2 separate regions of the Homo sapiens genome follow, and region 1 is linked to region 2. The links come from fine-mapping of genetic effects on gene expression. A gene starts in region 2. The other region holds a variant in brackets. All regions are shown on one strand. Distances are from middle to middle.

Region 1 (15,727 bases), 81 kb after region 2:
TGCTAATTTTATTTTTTCCCACTTTTGCCTGTAATCAAACTGTGGAAATAAGGCAAATGAAGGTTAATCTTAAATTTCAATTTGTCTCTTCACAAAAATAATTATTTGTTGAATAAAGCATGGCTAAATTGAAGATTTTGCATGCCCATGTCTCCCCCCCAATACCTACCATTTGAAGAGGTGGCTTTATACTACTGAGTTCTTTCCTTTAAAAAAAATCTTATTAGGCACGCTTAACAGATTGTTGCTTTGTGTTCAAGGAGAGCAGATAACTGGCTAAGAAGATTTTTTTTTCCAGAATAATTTTATCCAGGCGATATGCCCATCGGATCTGTTTTAGAATGTAGAACTATTTAGAAAGTTTTTGTTCTTGTAAAGATCTGGTAGCAGCAATTGAGCATAATCATGTTATTGTCATAAAAAGAAAAGAAAAGAATATAACAATTTTTTTCTAGTAGACATATGTCTTGTCTGTCTATAACCTATTCCCTGAAATTTGGCCTAGTAGAGTTAGTTTGTTCAAATATATTTATTTTGTTTTAGAGAAAGCAAGAAAATTGTTTTTTTGAATGCCAAAGAAATAGATTCTTGTAGTAAAATCTTAATCTTGTTTCACAGGTTGGTGAACCATACTCCAACAGAAAGGGGACATAAGACTGTAAGTAGTTTTAAAAAGTTGAACTAAGAGAAAAGCTTTATTATGAAACTATGAGGATTATTTCTGTGCACTGGCTGCCCCGTCATATGTCGTGGCATGTGGCGGGTTGACTGCTCATTAATTCTATTTATATCAGTATGATAATCCACCCCACTGAGTATGCATGTGTTAAAATATTCATAAATTATGTTTATTGTGACCAAATATACATTAAATGCCAAAAGAAGACCATTATTTAAAGACAAAACCAGTCAACAATCAAACAAGCAAAGCCTTTTTACTGTCAGTCCAGTACATTATGTTTTATCAAATTCACATGAATTGCTTCTCCTTCCAGTGCCCCATAAGGAATGTTTATCCTTTGTTTTTAAACTATGCAAAGAAATAGACTTCACTGAAAGGAACAGATTTGGAAAACAAAAGCTGTTACATGATCTCAGACTAATAATAACATCGGCTGGAAGAAACCATCTAGGGAAATGCACTTTTGGCTTCCAAAATTATTTGATCCCTAATATACCCTTGACTTGAATTTGATGGCATTTCATAAAATCATAGACTAAGTTAAATAAAGCAGCTAACTTTTTTTGATAAACTAGGCTGCCAATAGAATTTTAAGTTTGTACATTTTTTGTTTGAAAACAAAAAAAGGATAGTTAAGAAAATCTAGAAGGTTGAGAATTGAGACCAGTAATTAAACTATACTGCGGCAGACCGTTTTGGAACTTATTACTTCCAAATGAAGCAATCCTTAACTACTCTGTTTTGAATGATTCCAGGAAGTTGAAAAAATTGAGGTGATTATTCTTTTTACAGGCTGCTTATGCAGCAACACAGCACAGTTGAAAAGTTTGAATTCCTTGTCAAAATCCAAAGTGGTTTTAGTTAAAATATATTGCCTAACTTACCCAATTCATCATATTCTGAATTGAAGCCATGAAAACATCTAGGATTATTAATTATGAGGACCATACTTCAGATTTAACCAAAATAATGATCATTTTAAAAAGTGACCTGTATGCTGGCTTAATAGTCACTTGTAATATCCTCCAGGAAACTGTTAAAAATTTCAAAACTTAAATTATACTTGAAAGGACTTTTTTTCTAAATCAAAACAATAAGTGAGGAGTAAAACAAAATAGAAAATTCTGAATTTATTTCATTGTCACCATATGCTTATTTTAAAGAAGAACACAACATTTAGAGAACAAATTAAATTTAGAGAACAACATTTAGAGAACAAATTAATTTAGAGTAAAAATTAAATGTTTTTCTCATGTCGCCAATACTTACTATAGGAGTGAAGTCATCACTTAAATTGCATGTTAATTTCAAGTAAGATTTTTTTTTTTTCCTGTATAATGACACCATTATAGAATGTTTTACTTTCTACTTTTCCTTGGAAGAAAAATGTCTTTACTTCTATACAATCTTTTAAGAAACCTAAACAGTATGGCAACCTGAACAGGTATAGGAAATCTCTCCAGGGAAATAATTCAAAATGTGGAAAAAGCCATGTATATAAAAATTTTCTTTATAACATTGTTTATAATAGCAAACATTGGAAGGCATTTTAATATCTAGCAGTGGAAGCTTGGTTAGGAAAAGATGACAACATTCATTTGATGAAATATTATGCAGTCAATAAAATTGGTATAAAGCAGTATGAGAAATATGGGATAAAATACTAAGTTAAAAAAGGATACAAGATGAAGGTGTAGCATGATTATAATAATTTTAACACATGCAAACAAAACACTAAAAGAGGATGCACAAAAGTGTTAATCATCAAATTGAAGATTGAAATGGATTTTTTACCCTCTTTTCATACTTTTATTATGTTGTCATGCAATTTAAAATGCATTTTAAAATTTCAAAATTATTATCAGTAATCAATTTATACTTTTTCTTTAGATGTCATAAATAATCACCATAGATTTTTGAGGGGAAAAATTAGACAACTCCAATTTCCAAAGATGTTAATTTTAAAACCAGTATCCCAACGTGTGGTTTTAGTATTCAAACCTAATTTGATTTCTATGGAATCATAGTGCACTTATATTTTATTAAATAATAATTCCCTCTTTTATTAAAAAAATCCTGCTTATTATATTTAACTCTAAACGACAGCTTTTTCGCCTCTCAGTTCTCAAAAACCCTGAGCAGCCATTTCAGAAAACAAAACAAAAGAAAACCCCACATATCAAAACACCACAAAACCCTCTCATTAAGCTCTCTGCAAAGTTTGAGATGTACTTTCATGTGAATCTTGGCCTCTGTACAGCACTGCTGCACAATCATTTTCATCTGAGATTTGAACATATTGGAAGAACTAGAGCCTTCCTTTCTTTTATCCTGTCATTTCCCCCGCTGGAAGTGATGGGCATATGGCAGGCACCCTCCCTAGATTCTCAAACAACAGGAGGGACCTGATTTCAATTCCTACATCCTGTCATCAGTGACTCTCGGGATATTTTGTTCTTGCAAGGCTAAGGATGTGATTCGAATTTGCCATACGGACAGAGCTTAATGCGATGCCATTTTTACCACTGGCGCCCTCAATCAGTTAATTAAACATGATATAAATCACCACATGTATTTGTTAAGTAAGATTAATATGGCAAAGTCAAAGTAAAAAATGAGGAATCCTCCCCATCCTAGGAGTGTGAATCACTGATAGGAAGATTACACTTTTGGAAACTCAATACTTTTGAGCAGGCTTTGTTGGTTTAATCCCTCAGACTGCTTTGTGCAACTTGAAACCTAGAGCTGTCATCTTTAGCCAAAATTTCAGCCATAACTTCCTCAGCTTTCACCCCATTATTGAAATCAGCATTCACAATACTTAACAAAGATCAAACCTTTCAGCGGACCACGGGGCAGCCTCTTACCACCTGGGACACCAGAAACATGTTTAATAAATATTTCATTTTGTTTTAACATGAAGACTCCCTGGTTTCAATTTTTTTTTTCTTTCCTGGGGAGCTAAGGGCTACCACCAAGCTGCACATTCCGTCACTATGGTCAGTTAGGTTTATAGCCTTAATAAAAGGATTTGCCCCCCTTCACATGCTAGGGAGCCTTGTTAAACCACAGCAATTATAGAAACACAAGATAGGTGCTCTGCAAAGATCAAAGCTCACTTAAAGACAGCTCTGTAGGAATTTGGAGCTCTCTTTGAAAAGTGCTCAGTTTACAAAGTATAGAGGTATTAAACCCTAGGAATTAAAAACTTATTTTAGAATAATGTTTAAAGTCTGACAGTAGTTAATATGGGATCTCCTTCAGTCACTCTTTGTGTATTATTTCTAATATCTATTCACGGCATACCTATAATAGCTCCAAAGGAACCATTACGCTCAGAAGACATACGCATATGATGGATCCTTAATACCAAATGCATTACCTACTCAGTAGGTACATTTTAACCTCAATATCCCAGCTCAGGGACAGGGTAGAAAAATAGCATGTAAATTTCTTTAGGAGGAAAAAAATGCAGCATGCCTGGGTCTTCAGCTTTGTGGCTCAGTGGAATCCCTAGAGGCTGCTTTCCATGCAGGAGGGATAGGTGATGGCCTGTGCTGGGCTGCACCAGGTCACTTTAGCATCTGGCCTTTGGGGCTGCCGCACAACTCACCCAACTCTAATTGGATGTTGAAGTACCCAGTCTTAAGCATTGTAATGTTTCCTCTACCTCTGTAGATTGTATCATTCATCCAGAAACACATACACACACACACACACACACACACACACACACACAGAGTAATGCATGTGGACTCCATTTCAGAAAAAGAATGCTAAACCCCGAGTGGCCTAAACTTAATTGTGTGGCTATGGGAGCTTTCGGGTGACAAAGGGTCTGCAAGCCAAATAATTACTTTTGTGTGCAGCATCTTACAACAGGGCAGTATAAATGGGCTTAGCCTGGGATTTTGAACTCTGTGCTTCAGCCTCGGAAAATGAGTTATTTAAAAGCAGCTATTGCCAGGAACATTTTAATATCTATTTAGAGAAAACTATTTGGGGTTTTTGGTGTCCAGGAGTCTTTAGCTTTGAAACATGTAGGTATAAATGCAAACCCCTCATTTCACGTCAGCATATCCATTTTAAATAAAAGGTTGTAATGATGATAAAAATAAGAGCTAATATTTGTTGACTGCTTGCTATTTGCCAGGCTGTATGCCCAGTACGTTACATGGAGTATTACATTTAATCTTCATGACAACCCTATGAGATAGGTTCTATTATCGTATTTATTTTCTAGACGAGGAGACTGTGGCTCAGAGGGGCAAAGATCACATCACTAGTAAGAGGTGGGGTTGTGATTTTAATCTGGGTTATATGACCCTAGAAGCCACGCTTTTACAGCCTGTTACTATCTGATTTGAAGTTTATTTTGTGCTGTGATCTAAAGTTTCTATTTTATGGTTTCTTTTTATTTAGCTGTAACTTTTAAGAGAATTCTAATCCTTGAAAATAAAGGTAACAGAGTCTATTTTTCCTAATTAGCTTTCTGCTTTTAATTTTAGTGTTAAATGGGTAATGTAACTTCAGGTTTTGTGTTTCTAATAATTTATTTTGGAAAATGCCATACCCCAAGAGTTACCTGAAAGAGTTTCATGATAGAAACTCTTTTTATTTGCCTTGGAATCACCATTTTATAATTAATCTAAGAAAATGCCCTCATTGAAAATAGAAGCAATCAATTATCTTGTTTGCCTTCCCTTTGAATAAAGCTTTTCCTTTGACTAGTTCAAGATTCTGATACGTTGTTTAATGTGAAAGAGATGTTCCAGATTTAGAAGTATTATAGTGCAGCATGAGTCAGATAGGCCTGAATTAGAATCTTGGATTCACCAAGTTTTGGTTCTGTCATCTTGGGCAACTATTTCAATTCTCTTAATCCTATCAGTTTATTATTGGTAATACAAAAAAATAATGCCGATCATACAGTGTTATTACGAAAACTTTATGAAATATATATGTGTAAATATATATATATATATATATATATATATATATGTCTGTTTTCTGAGCATAATAGTTCTATTTCAAGGGCCCCCTTGATGTCCAACTATCAAGCAAAGCCCCACCAAGATGAGTGAGTTCCCCTGTGTTCACAGTTTCAGGCCTTAGCAGACATGGTTAAAGTGCTTCCTGACAATACCAACACTAGAGCTTGATCCAGGCCTCAAAATAAGGCCCTTTTTTCCCAGTAGAGTTCCAAACTGTGAAAACAGTATTTCTGCAGCCTTTCAGAGACGGAGTCTTGCTCTGTCGCCCAGGCTGGAGTGCAGTGGCGCAATCTCGCCTCACTGCAAGCTCCGCCTCCTGGGTTCACGCCATTCTCCTGCCTCAGCCTCCCGACTAGCTGAGACTACAGGCGCCCGCCACTACGCCCGGCTAATTTTTTTGTATTTTTAGTAGAGATGGGGTTTCACCGTGTTAGCCAGGATGATCTCCATCTCCGGACCTCATGATCTGCCCACCTCGGCCTCCCAGAGTGCTGGGATTACAGGCGTGAGCCACCGCGCCCAGCCAAATCTAGATTATTAACACAGTCAAAGGGAAGGGAGAAGAATATATATACATATATATGTACGTAGATGCGTGTGTATATATACACATATATAGAATATTTGTGAGCTATACATATATATGTGTGTGTATGTGTATATATATGAATATATACATAATGCCTCCCTTTGTTGAAATAGCAGGAAAAGTTCCAATTTTAGTTTTTAGATGATAAACTTAGTTTTAAGGATTTTCTATCGAGCTATCTTTTGTGGATTGTCAGATCTCATTTGAACAAATATCTCAACTCACTGCTCGGCAACAACATATGTCATCCTGACCTTTTAAGACCTTGTAACCCACCACTCCAAGATAGGCTGCTTCCTTCCTAGGCCATGGAGACCTGGCCTGCATGTTTGAATAGCCTCTAGCTTCTTACTGGTACGTAATACATATTAATAATCAATCAATCAATCTGCCACCTTTCATAAACACTAAATTTCTTTCACAGTATAATAACACAGTTGACATTATATCAAAATTCAAGACTTTTTGAGAGGTCATTTTTATCTTTGATCTATCTGAATATAAGTTTATAGAAACATATAAGCTACCAATATCCTCTTAAAAGGGACTGTTAATGTAAAAAATGTTTATTCTGCCTTTTGACATATTTTCTGTCTTTGCTTTCTTCACTTTTCATAATCTTTCACTGTCTACATGTAATGCTATCAGTGTCTTTAGAAGCGTTATTCAACTTGTAGCATGGCTGCAAGATAAAGGTCTTTAAAAATATCATTTTAGTGAAGTACGAAAAGTTGGCCATCACTGAATAATGGATCAGGATAATTGTGCCATTGCTTCTTACTCAAAGGTTCACCTATCCTACCAGAGTCTGGATGTATGGAAACAACTGGTGTTTAGTCAGAACATTTGCTTTCCTTCTGGGGTTGCCAGATTTC[A/G]CAAATAAAAATACATAGTACCAAATTAACATAGACTTTCAGATAAACCATAAGTAATTTTTAGTATAAATATGTCTCATACAATATTTAGGACAGACTTATACTAAAATATTATTCATGGTTTATCTGTCGTTCAGTCTAATTGGGCTTCCTGCATTTTATCTGGCAACTGTATTTCTTTTACCTCTTAAGTTAATAAAATAACAAACTCAGTCTTATTTCCATTAGCTCTTGTGGGATTCAGTACCATGCCATTTGATGGTGGTGGGAGGAGAGACCTGCCTTTGCATAAACACCTGGAAGACTTGGAACCAGTGGTTGAGAACCAAGTCAGAAGAGATAGTTTTGTAGTCTGTATATCAAACAGCTATAAAGCCACAGTTTGTAATTCAATTTTCTAATTTGCTTTACTCATTTCTCTTAAAGACAAAAGTGAAAATAACTCTTTTAAAATTGTATAGAAAAGCAGACTGCCTATGATATTGTTCATTATTTATTCCTTCATTCATTCATTCAAAAAATATTTATTGAGGGCCTACTATGTGTCAGGTACTGCATGACAGTTATAATAATATTTTTAGATTTATGTTATACTTATGTTCAGGTTCAAGGGTATTGTGTGTACCTGGATATTAATGGTGCCTGTTTTGAATAGCAGTGGTTGTAGATGTCTAAGTCATGCTTCCTGCCTTCTAATCAAACAGCAACAGTAGACATCATCTGTACTCCTGACAACTAATAACATATATTTTGTTAGAAGTCTTTTGGTTTTGCCTCGAAAAATAGCTGTATACTTAGGCGACGATGTTGTCAATACCTATAGTTTTATAGCTAGAGCTATATCTTTGAAAGGTCCCTGCTTTCCTATAGCACTAAGTTAAATTATGATTCATTCCATATTTTTAGAAACCAGAAGGTCAAAATATTGTTTAGGTATATTGCTTCATCTGCCATATATAAAAAAGACTCCTATCAATTGCCCTTCTTAATTTTTAAGTCATTTTTACCCATTTTGAGGTTATGGAGTATCTTACATGTGTTTGATTGGATTCAGTCAAATAGGCTGTACAGCTTTTACTATGCCTTGTAATTTTTTTCACTACAATAAAAAGCCTTTTAAATCACCGCTACTTAGAATTATATTGAAAATACTTGTGATACTTTTATATACAGTGAGTTTAATGCCAGGATGTGAAAGCAAATTGATTGTCAGCAATTCTGTGCTTGAGCACCCCGGAGTAAAAAGAATTACACTAGTAACCCTGGGGACCTCCTGCTCTCAGAAAGACTGTCTGCACTCAGACATCCACTGGCAGGTGAAAAAGAAGGGATTGCCTAATTCTTGTCTGAAATTCTATAAACACATTTTAATTCAGAGAAATAATTTTTGAAGGGAGAAAAAGCACCTCAAGAGACACTTATGTTTAACGTTTTTAATGTAGTAAAATGAGCTGCAAGGAAAGTATGTCATCTTTGCAATAAGCATTTGAAGATCTTCTAAGAGTGACTTAAAGGTAGACAACTTGCCATCTGGAGGTTGTGTGGCTGTGGAAGGCTTGGCTAGATCAGCAGATAAAACCCTCATGGACTTTTTACCTCTGACACCCTGGTCAGAGTGAGAAGTACTTGGGGCTTTTAACAAGAGTCTCTAATGACACATACCTCCATCAGCTTGAAGAGCAGCTGACATGTTTTAGGAGTGACCTTAGACTGTCATGCAAGCATTAGAGAGAATGAATTAATATTTTGGGGAGGGGCCTTTGGTCAGGATTATGATCCCTGAAGAGTCACTCTTGATTCTTCTTTCCCAGATCTTCAAGGTGAAATGTTCAGGAAACCAAAGGGTTATTGGCTTTTCAAGTATGCAGAAAGCAGATGTGTCAGGTTTGATTTCAGAAGGCAGACTAGCTGCATACACTTTTTCACTCTCTCCCACCCCAAGCTAAATTTGACTGGGACAAATATTGAGGAAGGGGACAGAGTGGGAAATAAAAGGCTAAAGTGTTTCTGCTGACATGGGCCGTTAATATCTGAAGAGGTCCAAAGGGAAAATCTCTACAGGCTAGTGGGACTGGAGACAATATGGTTCTAAATGGAAGTCAGACCTCACATATGCAAGCAAATTGCTATCAAGGATATGGCCTTGAACAACTTTTTGGGGGAAACTTGTAACACATTGGCCACAAGCACTCATTGGAAATGAGGCCTCTTACCACCAGTTCCCTTAAAAAGGATGTTTTATCCAAGACATTATCTTGAGTTCTCACACCAGCCCTGGCACAGCTCCACAATGTTTAGAGAGGCAAGACTTGCAGAGAGGGTAAGACTGCATACCGTAAGCCCCACAGCTTATCTTCTAATCCCAGCTCAGTCACTTATTAGCTGTGCAACTTCAGGCAAATTATATAATCTCTCTATGCCTCAGTTTCTTTATCTGTACCATGGGAAGGATTGAGTTAATACATATATAGTCCTTAGTTACCATCATCATATGCATCTTCCCTTGCTGGATATGAGACTGGAACACTCAGACTGGGGGTTATTTTTGCAGTCATATATGTGCTTAGAAAATAAAAGTGTATAAACATAGATAGACAATGAGAGCATTTTTCAAGGGCATTTGTCAGAATGATGGCTCCTGACTGCAGTGAGGTTCTGACCATCAGCATAGGCATGTTTTAAAGTGTCATGTGTAAGTGTTGTACAAAGATGAGTCCTCAGGAATCATCTGGCCCAACATCTTTCTTTTATGGATAACTGCAGTCCACGGAAATCGGTCCTGAGCCAGGTGTTGGCAGTGCCAGGACTAATTTCCATGTCCCCTGTCATCCAGTGCAGAACCCATTCCATGACACTGTACTAACTTTGAGTCTTTGTTGCAAAGCAGATTGTCTAGTCGTTATAAAGAAGCCCATCTTACCATTTTTTCTACCTGAAAAATATTCCCTCTTGTAAGTTTCCTGATCCATTCTCCAGATTATCTATTTGTGTACTCTGAAAACTGTCTGCCAGAACAATGAGGTTCTTTGCCAATATCTAGCCTCCTCCAAATAATAATGCCAATCATCCTATCATTGTTTAGTTACAACAGGCCTTGCCAGCCTTTCTAAAGGAGGATTGCTAAATTGTTTTACTTATGGGCTAAACTTGACATTTTTGTCTTTTACCATTCTCAACATCAATTTTATTCTTTCACTTAGCAGAGGTGGTCAATTTGCCTCAAATACACCTTATGAATTCTCACTGTGATAGCTTTGTTTATGCTGTATCTCTTATCCAGAATGGCTTTTATGCTCCTACCAATCTTACAAGATCCCACTCTGTTACCTTTCCCATGGAGACATCATTAAATATTCCAGCTGTTAGCTGAATCAGATAAGGGTTAATGCCACACTTCGTTTTGATAAACTGGAGCCAGTAAATATCCATGAAACTTCACTATCCTTTTATGAATATTGCTCAACCTAGACCTCTGCTCTTATAGGCCAGAGCTGAGTATGCTTCTACATGCAGTCTTACCATCTGCATCTGTGGACTAATGCAACTTCTTGTTGTCTGGTCTTCCTGAGAATGCATTATATAGATTGCAGTTCATTTAGAATGCAGCTGCCAGGGTCGTGACTCACACAGAGATTAATCATTATGCCTGGGTTAGCTTCATTACTTTGACTACCCATTACATCTTGCCAAGATTATAAAATGTTGCTTTTAACTTACAAGGCCTACACTAGCACCCACTTAGCTCCAAGACACATATTTATGCTGTTTTCTTTTGTATTATCAGGTCACTGGAAATTGCTGCTATTTCCCATAAGCTTTGACTTCAAAAATTAAGTCATGCTGAAGCTTTCTGATATCAGATTGAGTAACATATCTAGAAAAGAAAGTATATCACATATTTTATTATAAATTATATAAAAATTTATAGGGCATATATAAAGTGCTGCTGTGAAAATCTTAAAGAACCAAGTATTTGTTTGACTTTTCTTTAAAATAATAATGTCATCACAAAAAAATTAAAGATTGTCCAGCAATTGTAGAGTTACTAGTTAAACTATTGCCACACTGGTGCAAGCCATCTGTATCATCTGTGGTATTATTTAGTTCCTTTCATCATTTGATTCAACCCAAACCTAAAAAAAGAAAAGGATTCTGAAAAGAAATGTTGCCACTTCTCCCAGAACACAGTTAGCATAAGTGGAAAAATAAAGGAAAAGACATTTTCCAATAAAAATTGCTGCATACATTTAGTTAACAGAAATTAATAAGAACTACCAATAGGGGTGAACTGTATTAATTTCCCCAGATCTATATTCATGTGAAGTCTTCACAGGAACAAAAAGAAAGAAGGTTAATGTAATAAAATTTTTGAAGGACAATTGTAGAAGTGTGATTGGTATACTTCTCCAATTGTATTTCTTGATGATTATATTTTAAGGGAGTTAGAATTAAATCTTAAAATATATGTGACATATATTCAGACTTGAAGGGAAAGTAGAAAATTGAAGATGTGGTAAATGGTTATGTTTAAGAGCAAAAGGTCTGTATTAGAGTTTCATCCTTATATGAAATTTTGCAGATCTTGTTTTTGTAGTGGGAACTTAAATCTATCTGTGGTACTTGGTGCAGGTAATGAGGCTGAACTTGTTATTGATTGATCTCAAAATTTTTGTGAAGTCTTTATACAATATGACTGCCACGTACTTTAGAAATATATAATTACTAATGACAACAAAAATATAGAAAGGATTTGTTCTGTGCCAAGTTTTATTTCAAATACTTTAGATATAGTAATTTGCTTAATCCTCACCACAGTTCTATGAAGTTGGTATTATTGTTATCTTTATTTTATAGATGAAGAAAGGAAGGCCCACAGAGGTTAGGAAACTTGCCCAGTTACATAGTTTATAAGCGATGGCACAGGATTCAAACTCAGCTGATCTGGTGCCTGAATTCATGTTGAGAACCACTGCAATATACTATTTTTTGGAGTCAATGTAGGGAAACATGGATGATCACACCAAAAATTATCATTTTTGATAATTTTTGAAAAAGGTGATTATTATCAAAACAACAATTTGAAAGTGAGAAGTTGAAAAAATGGTTTTGATGATTTATTGATTGAGATCCAGTGGTCAAATATCTTCTACTAAGAATCAAGGTCCATCCCTTGGTCTAAAATAGGTGACTTATTTTGATAATAGATAGATGCTAAGTGACTTAGTTTGGTGGGTAATGGAGAGCTTTTAGAGTAAAGAGTCATTTGGAAGGTAGTCTGAAAGCATTCCTGCAATCCCTCTCATATGTCCCCCAACCCCAAATCTCTAATAAACATTTTGTCAAAGAGTAGAAGAGTTATTTAAACTTGAACATATATAAAATTAAAGAACAATGAGATCTTAATATCTGTGATCATGTGAATAGAATGTACGTCTTGACTGTTTTAAACCAGCAGAACTTGCAGTAATCAACCAAGCATTATCCAAAAAAAGCAGCTGAAGCACTGAAAGAAAAAAGCATGCAAATTCTTATTCCAGCTCTGGAATCAATATGTTCCATGGATTCAATAATATTAGACTTTCTTCATAGTTTCTTGGGAACATTAAAAAGAATTGTATACAACAGTGCCTTAAAATCTACAAAAGAATCATTCAAAAATTTTAAACTGTTATTAAGAAAGCCAATGTATTTCTCTAGTAGTGCGAAATATTCTCTTGTGTTGTTCTTTTCTGTGCCATCAGATTGTAATTTGCTTGTGACCAAGGACATTTCCTTTTTTATTTACTCACCATGACTCAAATAGAGCTTTTCACTCAAGAGGCCTTCAGTATGTGTTGGACAGTAAATATAAAAACTGGAATTTGGTCCTGGTTGCTCAACATGCATGAGGTGCTTACTGAGGAATAAGAGCTGTGCTAAGCATAGAGACACACAATAACTTAGATGTGGGCCTTTTCCTTGAGGGGCTTAGTCTTGTGAGTTCCCAGTAAAATACTGACCTGTCAGGATCATTGGTGTGGAGTCTGCCAGTCATCTCATAGATATCCTCTCCAGTGTCATATTCTTGTTAGAATCACAGTTGTGTGTCTCACCCTCAGCCACTAAATACTGTGAATTGGTGAAAACATCTGTCACACTTCATTTAGAGACCTGCTAAGTGCCATTAAAAAAATTAAAAACAACCTCCTTAAAAATACAAAACAAAGCAGTAAAACATCAAATCTCACAATAATTTGATATCAACTTATAAAAATTGATGTAAAAATGCATTCTGAGTATTAATCTTTCTTTCCAGAGAAAGGGGAAAGACCCTAGCTACAATCTTGTGGACATACTTGCTTAGTCATTTGTATTGTTTTGCCAAATGGAAAACACAGCTAAGAATTCTTTATTTATTTATTTTTTTTCTGAGATGGAGTTTCACTGTGTTGCCCAGGCTGGAGTGCTGTAGCACAATCTCAGCTCACTGCAACCTCTGCCTCCCAGGTTCAATCAATTCTCCTGCCTTAGCCTCTGGAGCAGCTAGGATTACAGGCGCCCACCACCATGCCCGGCTAATTTTTGTATTTTTAGTAGAGATGGGGTTTCACCATGTTGGCCAGGCTGGTCTTGAACTCCTGACCTCGTGATCTGCCCGCCTTGGCCTCCCAAAGTGCTGGGATTACAGGCGTGATCCACCGCACCCAGCCTAAACACAGCTAAGAATTCTTATTCTTACTTTTTATGTTCTTGGTTTGTATCCCAAATGGAACATAATTTGGTATTTACCATTAGAGTGATTGTACTTGAGGCAGATTTGAAAACATTACATTTATAACTTAGCTTAGAGGCTTTCTGATAAATCATACATCAGCACTATGGAGCTGAATACAGTTCAAACAAGTTAATTAGGCAGAAGAGTGTCAACATGAACCTTTTTTCCAATCTGGATTAATAGAGCTTAATGAAAGGGGGAAGAAATAATCATTTCGTAGTGAGTTATTTCACAAACTATGTGACCCATATGTAGTACCACAAAACACAGTCTCTTACACAGATCTGGTTGAATCTGGTTGGAAAAACTTTCTAAGGGTTTGCTGCAGGGTATAGGAAAGGAAGTAATTAGAAACAGGACAGGGACTTTATGGAACACAACAGAAAGCTAATTAAAGTGCTTAAGTTGCTTATTAAACTTAAGTTGCTTGTTAAATGATGATCCAGTGTCCTGGTAGTCACTTTCTATTTTGCATTATTTGGATTTAGGCAATAGAAGTGAGTTGAACAATTCTAATTTGGAAGTAATAGGCTAAGATGTATGGGAATAGAAGGGTGACTAAGAAGAACCCTGAAATACGCTTATATTCTGGGAGTAGTGATGACATACATACCGAGTAGCTATCATATGCAACTATGATATTATATTAAAGATCTACTGCAATTAGCTGTATCTGAGGAATGAATAAAATATTGAGAGGAAGAGGAAATGGTGAGAATGTTTCATGAACAAGGTAACAGTTAATCAACATCTTAAAAATCCTAAGGACTCTGCCAGCAGAGTTGAGGAGACAAGCCATTCTAAGTGGGAAGAAGAGAGAGCAAAGACATGGAGTAGGAAAGCATATAGTGCTCTGGGTATGAAAGCCATATTTAAGGAAGAAGCTTTAAATTTTTTTTTTTTGAAATGGCATCTCACTCTATCTCACCCAGGCTGGAGTGTAGTGGTGCCATCTCAGCTCACTGCAACCTCTGCTTCCTGGGTTTAAGCAGATTCTCCTGCCTCAGCCTCCTGAGTAGCGGGGATTACAGGCACCTGCCACCATGCCTAGCTAATTTTTGTATTTTTGGTAGTGATAGGGTTTCCCCATGTTGATCAGGCTGGTCTCAAACTCCTGACCTCAAATGATCTGCCCGTCTTGACCTCCCAAATTGCTGGGATTACAGGTGTGAGCCACCATGCCTGGCCAGAAGCTTTAAATTTTGATGGAAAGTGTTTATTCTTTATTTTAAAAACCAGTGCAAGAACTAACAGTTGCACAATGAATTTAAAAGGGAAAGAAGCCATGATACTTTATACGTAGAAACTTATACTTGAGTTAGAGAGATTCAAAACTAAAGCCCATGATAAATTTTTCAGAAAAAGAAGTGCTTAACTTGTACACTGAAAACTTTAAAACATTACGGAAAGAAACTAATGAAGACCTAAATAAATGGGAAGACATCCATGTTTATGGATTGTAAGATAATATTATTAAGATAGCAGTACTCACCAAATTGAGCCACAGATTCAATCTTTGTCAAAATCCCAGTTGGTTTTTTAAAAGAAATTGATCCTAAAATTCACATGGAAATGTAAGAAAACCACAGCAGCCAAAGCAATGTTGAAAAACAAAAGTTGGAGGATAAAGTAGATTAGTGGTTTTAAGGGTCTAGAAGGAAGGAGAAATGGGGAGTGACTGCTAATGGGTATAAATTTATTTTTGGAATGATGAAAATGTTCTGGAATTAGATAATGATGATGGGTTCACGAGTTTGGGAATACTGTAAAAACCATTACATTGTCCATTTTAAAAGTATGAATTGTATAGTATGTAAATTATACCTCAAAAAA
Region 2 (15,727 bases):
TCAAAACTGTGGAAATTTTATTAACAAAAATTTTGATATATTCACAAAACCAAAATGGAGTATTATCAAAAAATATTTGCTTCACTGAATTTCAGAAAAGCTGAAAAGTCTTAACTTACTTTGTGCAGCTGATTTTTGCTCTTGATTTTCCTTTTGCTACACTGGGAGTACAAGGAATAGCAGTTTCACCAATCCACATGTCCAGCATAGAATTTGTTGTTGGTTTTTCATCCTTTGGCAGATAGGGAAAAAAAGAGGTATAAAGTACCAGTGTAGCATCCCCCGTCTTCCAAAAAAACAAAAGAAAGAAAAAAGACAATAAAAACTAATGATTTTGAATTAATTTCCTAAATTCTGGTGAGGTAACACTTACCAAACTCAAAAACAATAGGAAGTTGGGAGATAGCAATAATAAGCTACAATAATTGATCCACTTATGTTTCAGAGAATGAAAACATTCAGAATTACAAATTGCTTATTTTAAAAAAATATTGTTTTAAGAATTAAATTTATCAAATGTACATTTAATAACAGAAGCATGTTTTTATCAAAAGAAAATTGACATTTTAATTGTCCTAAGATACTTATAAAAACATTAGTGTCAGAAACTGTGTGGCAGAAATCATCAGAATTGAGAGGAGATACATATGGAATTCTTTCTGTATCATCTGTTTCTCCAAATTTTCTTTATCCTTATTATAATCTTTATCTAAAGTTGGACAATCCATGTTGACCTAAATTAAGAACACTCAGAATTAAGATCAGGAATGAATTAAGAGATAAGAGCAAGGTTAGAACTGATGCTAAGAATGAGACAGGAATAAGAATAAAAAAATAGAGAAAACAGAAAAGTTTAGCCCAGATAATATACAGAAAAAAGGCATTTTAGACCTGGATACTTTTGCTGTACCTTTCAGTCACTTGATCACACAAAAAAATTACAGAATGAGCTTTAGGCATTAATTGCAAACCAAACCAACAAATCAAATCAAGTAACCATTTTCACTCTATTTTATAGTACCTAGAATGAACATAAATATCACACAATTTAAAAAATAATTTTACTACTAGATTATAGGCTACTCAAAGGCAAGGACTCTTCTTAGAATAACTCAGCATCCAGCACAATATTGGGCATACCAGTGTCAGTATACATTTATTTACTAGAAGATTTAGGTGAAAAGATCCCTACAGTTTGGTACTTCAAATCCTCAATGAATCAAAAAAGTTTTCTTAATGTCAACTTGAACCTAGTTGCCTTTAGCTTTGCAAATACTCAAGAAAATCAGTAATTTCACTTTCAGACTCAATATATTTTCCCTTTTATTTCAACAATCTTGAATTTAAAGACAATCATAGTCTTAATTATGAACTCTGCCATTTACAAAAGTAATTTTAAATTCATTCAATTTTCAGAGAACTAAATTATGACTTTATGTACCCAACTTTACATATACATGGGTCCTATGTATGTTTGTATACTATTTATACATGTTATTACATATTTCTTCATGAATAATTACATAATTTATTGATTTTCAACCATAATCCAGGTGCTGTATAAGGTATCTAAATGCATTACTTCATTTCATTATAAAAAGTATACTGTGCAAAGCTGTATAAATGAAGATACATACCATCTTCAAATAAACAACATTGTATAAAAGTATCCCTGCAAAAAGTGAACTGACTGTCCAACCAAAATAAAAGCGCATATTTAAAAAAATGCTATCTCTGAAAATGTTAAAACTAAATGATTTGAGAATGACTCACCTAAAAATAAACAATATAAGTATTTGTCATTCTGAGAACATGACAAGCTTTCAAACAGACCTTGAAACTGCTAAAGATTTATATGCTTTAAAAGTACTCAGTTTAAGAGGGTAACATTTTAAAGCTACTAATTTCACTATATTTTTTTCTTTTATACAAGTTACCACTTGCGTACTGTTGTCATTTCTTTATATGAGCTATTATTTCTAGCCCACTTAGGTAAAGAGTCCAATAATTTATTCACAACTATCTTTTTATCACTATTTAGACTGGCCCACCCAAACACATTTTATTATGCTTCTTTCATGTGAAACCCACAATTAATGAAGATCTATTGTTAACTTATAGAGTAAGTACTATTATGGCATAAATGCTATTTAACTAATTAACTGTAAGTAAAATGAATTTCTATGACATGCTAAAAATGGAATGTAGAGCTAGTAGCAACAGAGTTGTTTTGACTGTGCTAGGTGTAATTTTGGATATTTTATAGCTGCTAAGAAAAACTTCATTTTCTGTCTCTTCCACCTGGGTGACAGTAATTCTTCAAACCATGTTTTGGGCCAGTGCCATCTATTGTTTATGGTCAACATATAGTAACTATTCAAGCGCAGGTTAAGGAAAAATGGCATACTTCCTTCAGAGAAGACACTAAGCAAAAATGTTCTCTGGATTTAAATGTTAAATAAGAAAAAGAGAACAAAAAGTAAAGAAGTTCAGAACAGTTTCACGTATTGAGCCTTTGCTTCTTAGTAATTATAATATTAGAGTTACTGGATTGCTTTGTGTCAAATGATTGACTTGAACATATTTCTATTTCACTCAAACAATAAAAGAACAGAAATGAAAAAAAGAAACGAAACACTCAAAAAAAAATTTTTTTTAAGAGACAGGGTCTTAAACTCCTGGCCTCAAGCAATCTTCCTGCCTCAGCCTTCCTCCCAAAATGCTGAGATTACAGGAATGAGTCACCATGCCTGTCCAAGAAAAGAAAAAAAAGCTTTGGAGATGGTTCTATTACAGTAACAACCTTAACGTAACCTTACAATTATAGCACTCTATAGTTTACAAAGAATTTTTATCTAGTTTAATTCTCATAATGATCCAATGAAGACAGCAAGAGCAACACAATAATTCTAGTTCATGGCTGAATGAACTGAAGTGGTGGGAGTTTAAATAACTTGCACTGGGTCACACAGCATAGGAGGTTGAATGAGGACTAAATTTGAATTCAGTGCTCTCCACTTTTGTAAGTGTTTCTTGATAATCTTATAAGGAAATGAGTATTAATAGTTTCAATGGGGAAATGTTACAGACAGGAAGTACCAATCACAAAACAATCATAGAAGTATAAACTTTTTTCACTGCCTTATTCTATTATTTTAGCAACTTGAAAAATGATGTCGTATGTTGTTAAGCACAACATTACAGATAAACACAATGCCCTAGTCAAAAATTACTCTAAAAAATTAAAACAAGATATATACTTAAGAAAATATCTTGTATTTTATATTATATTCCTTTTTTCAAAATATGTATTTCAAAAGTAGAAAAGGCAAAACAGTAATCTTTGCTGCCTTATTTTTGGAAAAAAGAATTATAATAGACAATACTTTTCATTTAAAGAAACTACAAAAACTTAGTGGCACATTCTTCACTGTTTTAAAACAAACTGTAAAACTAGTGATATTTACCTGAGGAGCAATACGATTAACAATATGTGAAATCTCATCACTATCTGTGGTGTAAATCTGTTTTTTTCTTCCTTTACCTAAAGAAACAAAGACATTTCTATAAATTTTAAACAAAAAACCCTCCATTTTAAAAAACAGCTGTCACTTCTTAGAAAGTAATTTTATTTAGTGCAGCTTAGAGGATTATGTGTTTACATCACATACTTATACAGATAAAATCATATAACATTCTCAGAGGTTCCCGATGCTATTATCTGACTAGAATTCTAGTTAAATCTGAATCATTTATCAAATATTTACTCACATAAAAAATGTTAATAATTAATTACCTAACTGCTTTGTCAATGGAGAATTCTGATCCCAAAAGATATCATTCTGTCCATCTGGATCATTAGGAGAACTGAAGGAAGATGACAGTGAGTCCATTTTCAGCGCTCTCTTTGGTGTTTCATACCTTTCTATATAAAATATGAGTAAAATAACAATTGTTGCATTTTAAAGCATTACCTTACTTCGTAAGACCCCAAGGTCAAATAGCTGAGACTAACTTTTATAGTCCAAGATAATTTTTTTTCCCAGAGATAATTACCTGAACCGTAACAGAAATGCTTGTTTCACATAAAAATCCACGCGGCACTTCGCAAACTTCACATTGTAAATAGCAAACACTTCTAGATAATCCAGAAGCTTTATGAATGCATAATACAATACTGTATAACCTAAGTCATTCTATTTATTACCATTGAGTCTTGGAGGCTTTGGGGAACCATCTGTAATTTATAGGTACATTCAAAAATCCAAAGTAACCCAACAGAAACCTAAATATGTTTAGCCCCCTTTCACCAACTCTATCTAATCTACATTAATTGCCATTCTTCAAAAACCATTAGTGATCCAATGCTTGGGAATTTTTGTCTAGAATCACTTTCAAATTTTTATAAAGATTTTTGTTCATTCCCAAATTGCTTTATAGGAGTATTATTAAAGACATGTAAGGTGGCCGGGCGCGGTGGCTGTAATCCCAGCACTTTGGGAGGCCGAGGCGGGTGGATCACGAGGTCAGGAAATCGAGACCATCCTGGCTAACACGGTGAAACCCCTGTCTCTACCAAAAATACAAAAAATTAGCCGGGCGAGGTGGCACACGCCTGTAGTCCCAGCTACTTGGGAGGCTGAGGCAGGAGAATCGCTTGAACCCGGGAGGCGGAGGTTGCAGTGAGCCGAGATTGTGCTACTGCACTGCAGCCTGGGCGACAGGGCGAGATTCTTTCCCAAAAGAAAAAAGACACGTAAGGTATAAAAAAAAAAAAAAAAAAAAAAGCACTATTTCAAGAACATGCTCCAGAATAAAGGCTTTTGTATGAGTTTCAGTTCCAACTAAGATTTACTAGAAGTCTTTTAAAAAGTAACACCTAAAACTAATCGAGACGAAAGAGATCCTTAGTATCTTATTTGGAGGGATGTTACACACAGGAACTTCCGGTTTATTCACAATGAGGTGAGACATCTACCAGGCTTTGAGACAAACTTTAACTTTTCCTATGAACTCTTCTCTAAAGCAGGTCACAGGGAAAAAAAGGGTTTAAAGAGAAATAACTTCTCCGGGCAAAAACTGAGGTTAGCGGGCCTATCAGCTGTTTCTTCTCACTCCACCACTGCTGCTGACTGGAGGAGCAGCCTGGAAAGCAGCCGCCCTCCCGCAAACAGGTAAACCACATTACCTATTCCTGTGGCGGAGGCAAATGGATGGTCAAACCTAACGGGGTAGTGCTGAAGTTCGGGGACAAAAGCCCATCGGGGAGTGGTATAGGATTATTTTTGGACTCTCGAGGGGTGAATCCCAGAGACAGAATACACGCTCCAGACTCCACCCCCACCCCAGATTTCCCTGTTGCAAGCTGGGATGTGGGGATGCGGCGCCGAAGCCAAGGCAGGCCGCGCTGCCGACGTCTCACCCTCGGGGTTACTTTTACTGCACAGGGCGGCGGTCGGAGGCTGCTCTCGCTGCCGCACTGGCCCGGGAGGCCCCTCTCTAGCCCCGCAGGGCCACGAACCGCGGGCCGATCTCAGCCGCCTCCTCCCTGGCTCGACCACCGAGCCGCATTCCTCCGCCGCCACTGTTTTGTGCGGCGTTTTCTTCGGGCTAGGGCTGTCATCATGTTTCCTTCGCCGACTCATTGCCTATGGCCCGCCTCCACCAGCCGCTTCTTCTTTCACATTTTGCAAAGGGATGAGTAGGGCAACAGCACTACAAACCGCACCCCGCACCAACGGCAGCCGCCATTTTGGTCGGTGGGGCGCGCGCAAGAGGCGGCCGCTGATTGGCTGGGTCCGGGAGAGGGGCGGAACTGTTAAGGTGCCGAGGGCGCGCGCACTTCCGCAGCCGGGACAGGAGCCTGCTCTGGAGGAGTGTCTAGGCTCAAAATCCTCCAGACTGGTGGGGGTTGTTCGGGTAGTAGTCAGGTCCGCGTAAACTGAGAGTGGGAGCTTGTGAGTTGGAAAGATTGAATACACTAGCAACTTTTTATTGAATTTACAACGAAAATTGCACGTTAGTCAAATTCAGATTATTGAGAGTCTTCGAATTTCTCAAGAAGAGGAAATACAGTTAATTTTTCATAGATGCTATGTGCATAGAAAAATCCAAAAGAAAGTAGAAAAAATTACTAAATTAATTTAAGAGTTGCTGGATACAAAGTCAATATTCAAAGATCAATGTGTTTCAATAGATTAGCAACAGATATAAAATTGAAGTTTTAAAGAGATACTATTTATAATAGTGCATGAGATAGCAAGTAACTAGGAATAAGTTAAAGATTGTCCTTCCTACAAAGAGAACTATAAAACATTTTTGAGGCCGGGCGCCATGGCTCAAGCCTGTAATCTCAGCACTTTGGGAGGCCGAGGCAGGCGGATCACGAGGTCAGGAGTTCAAGACCAGCCTGACCAGCATGGTGAAACCCCGTCTCTACTAAAAATACAAAAAATTAGCCGGGCATGGTGGTGCGTGCCTGTAGTCCCGGCTACTGGGGAGGCCAAGGCAGGAGAATTGCTTGAACCTGGGAGGCGGAGGTTGCAATGAGCCGAGATTGCGCCACTGCACTTGCAGTGAGCAGAGATCGCGCATCTGCATTCCAGCCTGGGCGACAGAGGGGGACTTCGTGTAAAATAAGTAAATACATACATACATACATACATACAAAAATTAGCCAGGCGTGGTGGCGGGTGCCTGTAATCCCAGCTACTTGGGAGCTGAGGCAGAGAATTGCTTGAACCTGGGAGGTGGAGGTTGCAGTGAGCCGAGATTGCGCCACTGCACTCCAGCCTGGGCAACAGAGCAAGACTCCGTCTCAAAAAAAAAAAAAATTTTTTTTTTGAAAGAAAACGAAGACCTAAATAAATGGTTACACTATGTTCATGGGTTGTGAGACTCAATATTGTTACAATGTCAGCTATTTCCAAACTGACCTATAGATTCAACATAAATACATATGAAGGCCCAGTGTGTGACTGTGTGTGTGTAACATGGTAAGTTTTTTCTAAAATTTATATGAAAATGCAAGGGACCAAAAATATCAATAAACTCTTGAAGATCTCTCGAAGAATAATGAGGGTTGATATCTACCAGGTATCAAGACTTATATGGTAATTAAGACAGTGTTATGATGGTGTCAGGATAGACAAAGATGAAAGAAACAGGATAGCACAGAAACAGACTTCCATATAAATGAACACGATTTAAGACAAAGGTGACCCTTCTGAGCAATGGTAAAAGGACTTTTGAAATTAAATAGTGCTTGGTCTATTTGATGTTCATGTAGAAAAAGAAAGAAACATGACCTTTACCTCAAACTTTATCCCCAAATCAGGTGCATATATATTCATTATAAATTTAATTGTAGAAGATAAAATAACATTTTAGAAGGTATAAATTGTCTTCATGACAGAACGCATTTGAAATAAAACAAAGGTCACCAGGCATAATTATAAATGTGACTACACAAAATTGATAATTTGAGAACTTCTGTCCATTCAAAAACAACATTAAAGAGAAGGAAGGGCAAGGCACAAATTGGGAGAAAATATTTATAAGACATATTTAAGGGCCTATATATAGGTTATATGAAGAACTGATACAAATCACTAAGGAAATGATTGACTGTCAAAACCAAAAGTGGATGAGACCCTTGAGCAGGATCTTCACAAGAGAAAATATTATCAACAAACTTATGGAAAAATCAGATTCATTTTTAATCAGGAAAATGCAAATGAAAACCATATCAGAATGGCTAAAGTTAAAAAGACTGACAATATAGGTATTGAGGCAGTAAACCAATGGAAGCTGTCACGTACTGCTGGTGAGAGTATAATTTGGCACAACCACTTTGGAAACCAGTTTTTGATCTAGCAATCCCACTCTGAGGAATATTCTCTGTTTAAATGCATGGACTTGTTCATCAAGATACAGTTTATAAAAATGCTTTGGTGGGATGCAGTGGCTTATGCCTGTAATCCTAGCACTTTGAGAAGCCGAGGCAGGTGGACTGCTTGAGCCCAGGAGTTTGAGACCAGCCTGGGCAACATGGCGAAAACCCATCTCTACAAAAAATACAAAAAATTAGCTGGGCATTTTGGCGCATGGCTGTAGTCCCAGCTACTAGGAAGGAGAATCACTTGAGCCCAGAAGTTGACTTGCTGTGAGTCATGATTGTGCCACTGCATTCCAGCCTGGGCAACAGAAAAAAAAAAGAAAAAACAAAGAAGAAGAAAAATGCTTTTAGCAGTAAAATTCAATTCAAAATTACTTCATACTGTAAGTGGACCAAATGCTTTCCAACAGTAGAATGATAAATATATTGAACTATATTCACACAACAAAATAGCAATGAAAATGAAAACTACAACTCTGTGCGACAACATGGATAAATCTGACAAACATAAAGTTGAGCAAAAAAAAGCTAGACCTCCCAACCCTCCTCCATAATGTTAAATAAATCCCATATAAATTCCATCAGGCAAAGTTCTACTATATTGTATAGGGATGTAAGCTTTAGTGTTAAAATGATAAAGAAAAATCTAGGAATGATTACCATAAAGGTCAGGATAATAGTTACCTTCGGGAGGGGGAAGGGACAGTGATTAGAAGTGGACAGAGGGAGGAGAGAATTTCATGTATTTATTGGCTTTGTTTATTTTCATGTTCTAGTTGTTAATTACAAAAGTATTTGCTTTGTGGTAATCTACTGAGCTGTACATTTTGTTCATTTTCTACACACATGTTATATTTATCAATTAAAATGTTTAAAATGTTAATGTAAGGCAAAGATCTTAGTTCCTACTGAGGAGCTGATATATTTCTTCTATCTTGTAAACTATTCTGTTTTTACTCTTTAATTTTGCTGACAGAAATCCTAGAACTAAATTTGAGATTCAGGGCTAGCAGTTATATAAACCATATAAACCGTTGTGAATAGATAATTCCATTATTTTTCCTCAGTGTTTGACCTTCTACTAATACTTTTTCTTTCCATGATTGTTTTTTACCTACATGTATTTAAACCATTGTTTAGTTTTATTTATTTATAACCGGATAAGACTGGAATACAAGTGATATTACATCTTTTAAAATTCAAATTAATTACTTGAACCTTCACTTGTATAAATTAGCAGGAATATTACTATTTCTCTCAGAGATCTCTCCTACCTCTCAAATGACCAAAAATCCTAGAAGCATTAAAAAAAATGTAAAAAGAACTTAATTTACCAAATAAATATCCAACTCACATTTAGAAAGTAATTAAGGAAGTTTAAAGAATTTAGTGATGTTTATAAGAGAAATAACCATGTAGTAATCCTTTAAAGCATATTAATGCTGCAAATAAAATAACAGTGAATACTTTACCATAACTCCAAATTCTATAGTGCCCAAGTAACCATTGCTGAAATGAACAACTTGAGCCTAAAGTACAGACGTGTTGTCTTAACACACCTAGGATGGCTGTAACCTGTAATCATTATGGGGTAGGAAATTATAGTAAATTTTAACTTGAAAATTACTTACTTTACATAATCTGTTACATTTCTAAGTGTACTTCAAATTAAATTTACTTCCTGACTATAGCTCCTGAAATAAGTATAACACAATTAACTCCTTAATAAAATGTTTTTAATGTGAAACAAAAGTCTTACAGATGTTTGAATGCAATATGATTCATAGCTCAGCATTTCTAGGCATTTGAATAATTTATACATATAAGTAAGGTTTACTGCAACTAAAAACTGTAATAAACCAAAGTGAAACTCTTGCTTGTTTCACTTACAGGGATTATTTATAAACTTGACAATAATTATTAAGGCAAAAATTGTGACACTGAAGGTCTGAGTTACTAAGGAGCTTCTCTGCCAGTGATTGCCTCCTCACTTACATTACAACGATGGGTCAATGCTACTGATCAATGGCTAACTGTGAGCAGTCTTCCTTTCAAGAAAAAAAAATCCATAATTATGTGAATTATGTTTGTGTTTTATATACAGAGCTCCAGCTCCAAATCTGTGAGAGTGCATTTGGCAGAATCTGAACAAGCAACACAATGATTAGAGGGTTTTTGTTTTTTTGTTTGTTTTTAACAGTTTTGTTACAATGTTTCCACCCCAAAATGTACCTGGGTAAGTGCTGGGCCCATTTTTCCTTATTCCTGACATAGCTGCAATTGTATTAGCTAGAACCACCTATTATGCCTAGCTGCTCCATCAGGAGCCTCTGCTGCCTAGGTGACCATGTCTGGCCAGACGGGCCCAATCGGGTAAAAATGACTGGACTAGACATGGGCACCTGATTTTAGGAACCAGTCCATAGCCAGCTTCTCCACCTCTGACTGACACAAAAAGATGCATTGAGACAATCCTATTCTTTCTTGGAGATTTGAACTAAGAATTTGCTAGAGGGCCCTGTGCAAAACCATGGTGGGCAGAAACTACGAAGAAGCTTGCTCAAAGTGGAACTGAAGGAAGTAGCAGAATTATGCAGACTGGGGACCACTGGAATCAACATCTGTTGACTCTGGATACCTTGAAACCCAACCACCATTCAGCTTCAATGTCCGTAAGACCAGATTTTACTGTGATACCAGTCCTTTTTTCTTTCAATGTGAGCCTTTACAGTAAACTTCCTTTGTTAGGTAGGGGCTAGCTAATGCCAGTTGGTCTCTATTTCTTACATCTAAAAAGAAACCTGAACTAAAACATAGAACAAACACCAGAATTGGGTCAAGGGTTGTAGTCTTATTGTTTCTCAATTAAAAGAATATTATTTTTAAAAGTTCAAAATAGAATGAAACAAAATCCCATTTAAATATGGAGCTGGAAGTTAAAATATTTTAGTGACTCCTTTGGACCTGAGACAAATTATACTGGAGACTAGCTGTCATCTGAAATCACTTTTTCTTAAGTTTTTTTGGTTCAATTATTGCATAAAGACCTAACAGTTAGAGAAATAAGGAATGTATTTTTATTTCTCTGTAGCCCCATACTCCTGGGGATGACATTTCAACCTTTGCTCTATCAGTTTCTACGATTTTCTTACCCTCTGAACCTACCAATATACTTTTCTTACTAGGCTCCAGCTTTGAATCAATCATGCTATTTGTTTTCTCAGCTCCTGGGCTGTTATATTGTAAAGATTCTTTACTGCACTAGCATGAACCTATAGTCATCAGCTGAGCTTTCAATGGCACATGACAATGTCACTGAGCAGCTCATGCTTCTCTTCTCCAAAATAGAGATTCCAAATTTCTAACACTTTCTATAAATCCCCTTCCAGCTCAGATTGTTCCTTTTTTAAAAGTTATTTGTATCCTACTTCCTAGAAAAAAAATTGACCTATGAAATATAAAATCCCTCATTAAAATTATGAAGCAGATAAGGATGTCTGTCATATCTAATTTTGCTCAGGGTGGAATATAGCTAGCTTTAAAACCAGCCAACTGACCATGAATCAACTATAGTTGTAAGCCTTTCTTACAGGTAAAGGGGTCCACTTTACAAAGTTTTAAGCTAAAACCCATAAGCAGAAGTCCCGAGGTGGAGCTTCTGGAAAAAATCTTTCTTCCTGATTGAAACAAGGAACTGCAGAGGTCATGATGGGACTATGAGGCCTAAAGCCACACTCTCTAAGGGTAGTAGAACAGAAGAATTCAAGGAGCTGAGGTTCCCAAGGTATCATGCAACCACAGTACCTGGCCTGGGTGGCCTAGCTCTATGCCATCAATCCTTTACCCTTTGATATTCATCAATCCCTTACTTGTTTAAACCAATAATTCTCAAACTAGTAGCATTAGTATCACCTGGGAACTTGTTAGAAATCCATATTCTTGGGCCCCATACTGGGTAAGAAACAGTGTGGGTTTAGAAATCTGAGCTTTTATAAGCCCTCCAGGTGATTTTGACGCATTTTAATGTCTGAGAATCTCTAGTTTATGTCGCTGTCTTTTAAGTCTTCCTAAAGGCCAAATAAAAAATGTATTTTTATGCATATATGGGGCTAAAAAACTGGCTAGCTTTAAAAATGTAACATTTTAATTTTTAATATATTAACGGCTAATATAAAAAAGTAAAAAATTTGTATAACAAAATAAAATACTTATACCGTGGTATGGAAGAAAAGCAAGTTATGCATGTCGTATCTACTATTCATATGCACATGAGTATGTGCATATACTCCCAAACATTTCAAATGAAATATTCCAAATATTGACTATACATTATCTCTAGGTAGTGGGATTTAACTAATGCTTGTTTTGTTTTTTTTTCTTCCAAATTATCTACAATGAAGATGTATTGCTTTTAAAACCAGAAAAATATGCATAAAATATTATATATGAAGCATGCAAATGATAGATTTAAGAATAGACACTAGGTGAGACATAAGGATTTAATTACTAAGGATAAACTTAAGAGAAATTGTACTAAAAGCTCATAATGGGATAAATAAAGTTGCAATGTTTTTTGGCAATCGTTCTACAGTACCAAATATACTCCCTGGAATCTTCACTACGATCAAGATAATGAACCTATTCATCACCCCCAGAAGTTTCCTCGTGCCCCTTTGTATTACTTTTGTTTGTAATAGGTAAGTTGACATATTTACTTTTGATTCATGGCTGTGTTCGACAAGAAGCTTGCAAAATTACTCGGGATTTAATAATCAGCTCTTACAAGCTAGTATGAACTGGCTACAGCACACCACTGATTCTGTTACTGCTCATTCTCCTTTCTCTAGTTTAAGTAACTTCAGTTTCTTTGACAGTTCCTCATCTTACCTATGTTTTCCAGGCTTTCATCAATTTTAAACCTCTCAATTCAGTGGTTGAGCTCAGACCTGGACCTAGAGAGACCTATACTTTAGGTTATAGGCTTAAAAATGAAGCCTATAAATGCTTGGGGCAGTTTACAAGGGCTGAGAAATTGGAGGTTGCTGGGAAAAGCAGCTCTACTATAGAAAGGGTCCCTTTCTAAGTAAGTCACCCTTGGGAGTTCAGTCTGTGAATGTCAGTAGAAGGATGAAGGGAAGCAGGTTACCCAGTTCTGATGTGGGGCATACTATTGCACACTGCTTTCTGCAAGCAGCACTTAGTAGCACTAATTGAATCCAACCCCACTGATCATTTCAGATACCAACCCCCATCTGGCCTATATCTACTCAGGAATAATGGCTGTGGGTGTCATAGAGGTAATTTGAAAGACATTTTCCTCTACTGCTTTAAGTGAAACCTCAAGAATATTTTAAAAAACCCTCAGCAGTCCCAAAATGTCTTATTCAGGGTTAATAACTTTCTTTCCACTGGCCATAATGGAATTTAGTCCTCATTTATGTGTTCTTGCTTTTATGAATCCCAGAAAGATGGCCTGATTTTAAAGCTTGTCCTTGACTCTTCTTCAAGCAGCAGGATCCAGATCATTCACTCTGCCACCATAATTTTAACATAAAACACTCCTAAACTGTGTCTGAGACGATTACAAATTTCTTTATCTTGCAGTAAAAGTAAAATCTCAAAACTTTTACAATTCTTAATAGTATTTAGGTTACCCTAGCCAAGTGCAGGCCTAGGAATGCTAGGAATGTCCTAGATGCAAATAGTTTTTTGGTGAATGGTTATTTATGCAGAATATTCTGGCCCAAGCTGAAAATGGCTTTTGATTGTTTAGAAAGGAAATTACAGCATTTAAAACATATTAAAGTTTAAAATAACATTTTTGAGCAATTAGGATATAAAAGAATAGATGGGGAAGAAATTAGTTAAATTGCAAGACCCGTAAACAAAACTAACACTACTCATTTCAATTCAGTTCCCAGCCTAAGAAAATTTTCATTTCAGCAAGGCTTTTCCTGTCTTTTAGACTACTGGAAAAAATGGTTGGTTCATTTCACATGAAAGTAATGGACCCTGGCTTTGGTCTAGTATTAATAATGTAGATGACAGTGTGAGGCAACACTGGGTCTGGGGGTTATTCCATTGGCAAATATGTATGAAAAACACAGGAATATTTATTCTGCTGAACTATTTTTATAAGCCTGTTATGGCTTCTAAATCATCAAGAGGAAGGTTCCTTTACTTGCTACTCTTCACATTTCCAAACCCTCCCGGTCTTTGAATAGTTGTTGCTGTTCAAAGTGTAGGAGTATATGGAAGAGCAACATGGATATCACCTGGGAGCTCATTAGAAATGCAGAACTTAGGCCCCAGACCTGCTGAAGCAGGATCTGCATGGTAACAAGATCCCAGGCCATTCACAATCACAAGAAAGTCCCACAGGTGACCATCTGCAGAGACTGTCTCTAATAATTTTGGCCCGCAATGTTTAATGCCTCTTTTCTCTGAACTTTTACCTTACCTTCTGTCTGCTCTATATAATTTAGCAGTTGATTATATGATCTTATGTTTCTTAATAATTACTGGAGGTATGCAAATCTTATTTACAAGATTATGCAAGTCTCTGTTACGGAGGTTTGCAATCAATGCTCATTATTCCATTGTTTGTTAAAGCCCTATTCTATTCCTTTCTGCCTTATGTTCCAAAACATTTTGAGGTCAGGTTTAGGAAAAATTATAAAAAATTATCCTAATATTAATAAAAGTAAATACATGCTTTAGAAAGAAGCTGTTAATAAGAGTGGAAGACTGTAAATAACTTCATATATAGTTTTTGTTTTCTTATGAATGCCAAGACATGAAAGTAAACTGTGCTCTTGGCAAATGGTTTAGAATATAACCAATCCTTGATTTTTCATTAAAATCATATCTGTAGCCTGTAATCCCAGCACTTTGGGATGTTGAGGCAGGAAGATTGCTTGAGACCAGAAGTCAGAGACCAGCCTGGGCAACATAGTGAGATGCGTCTCTACCAAAAAAAGTAAAAAAAAAAAAAAAAAAAAATTAGCTGGATATGGTAGTGCATGCCTGTAGTCCTACCTACTCAGGAGGCTAAGGCGGGAGGATCCCTTGAGCCCAGGAGTTCAAGGTTGCAGTGAGCTCTAATTATGCCATTATGCTGTAGCCTACAGCCTGGGCAACAGAGCAAGACCCTGAATCAAAAAAGAAGAGAGAGAGAGAGAGAGAGAGAGAGAGAGAAAAGAAAGAAAGAGAAAGGAAAAAGGAAAGAAAGAAAGAAAGAAAGGCTTAGTACGAGTACATCAATAGCAAAAGAATTAGAGGTACTATGGCACAGTAGTTAATTTAACATTTTTTATGGCAATATCTACTTTGTGAATTGACCATAATATTATTTAATCTCTATGAGCTTGTAAGATCTCAATTTAATATCATTACAAGCCATCCCTTGTGTTTAAAGTACATCTCCATTAGAATTAGTTCCCAGATTGTATTAATGCTTAAAGAATTAAAATAACTATTAGCAAGAGAGGAATGAAAAATCTAGGAAAACGAACAACATAACACGTATATTGTACACACACACATACACACACACACACCCACACATACACACACAGGCTGACCTGTTGACTGCTCCAGGCAATGTTGGAATAGGAAATAAGTTTTCTGTTGAGGTTAATATTTTTGTGGATTTTTTTAACCATTGTAAGAAAACCTGTAATAAATTTAAGAGTAGAAAAAAATAGTTTTGCTGTTAGGAAAGATAAAAGAAAGTTATCATATATTATGTTCTGTAGATTGTTTCTTTCGGTGGTATCAAAAGAATTGGCCCATGTTTGAAGATCTGAATTTAATTAAGTCTACACAGAA

Alleles and levels. Alleles are on the strand shown, and positions count from the first base shown. SD is a standard deviation of normalised expression in the study named.
For the expression in lymphoblastoid cells of the gene that starts at base 5,761 in region 2, allele A in region 1 goes with a higher level than allele G (small effect, 0.34 SD a copy in GTEx).

Evidence for each region.
Region 1: its variant is fine-mapped to the expression of ETAA1 in lymphoblastoid cells (GTEx, PIP above 0.99).

The regions. Positions count from the first base shown.
Region 1 is chr2:67,306,736-67,322,462 of GRCh38, reverse strand. No RefSeq gene overlaps it. Among named protein-coding and RNA genes, the nearest start is that of ETAA1, 83 kb to the left of the region's middle. The variant A/G (reference allele first, on the strand shown) is at 7,141.
Region 2 is chr2:67,387,367-67,403,093 of GRCh38, reverse strand. ETAA1 (ETAA1 activator of ATR kinase) reads right to left here and starts at 5,761. Exons shown (of 6, transcript NM_019002.4): 1 at 5,423-5,761; 2 at 3,797-3,925; 3 at 3,468-3,544; 4 at 120-232. The coding sequence starts at 5,645.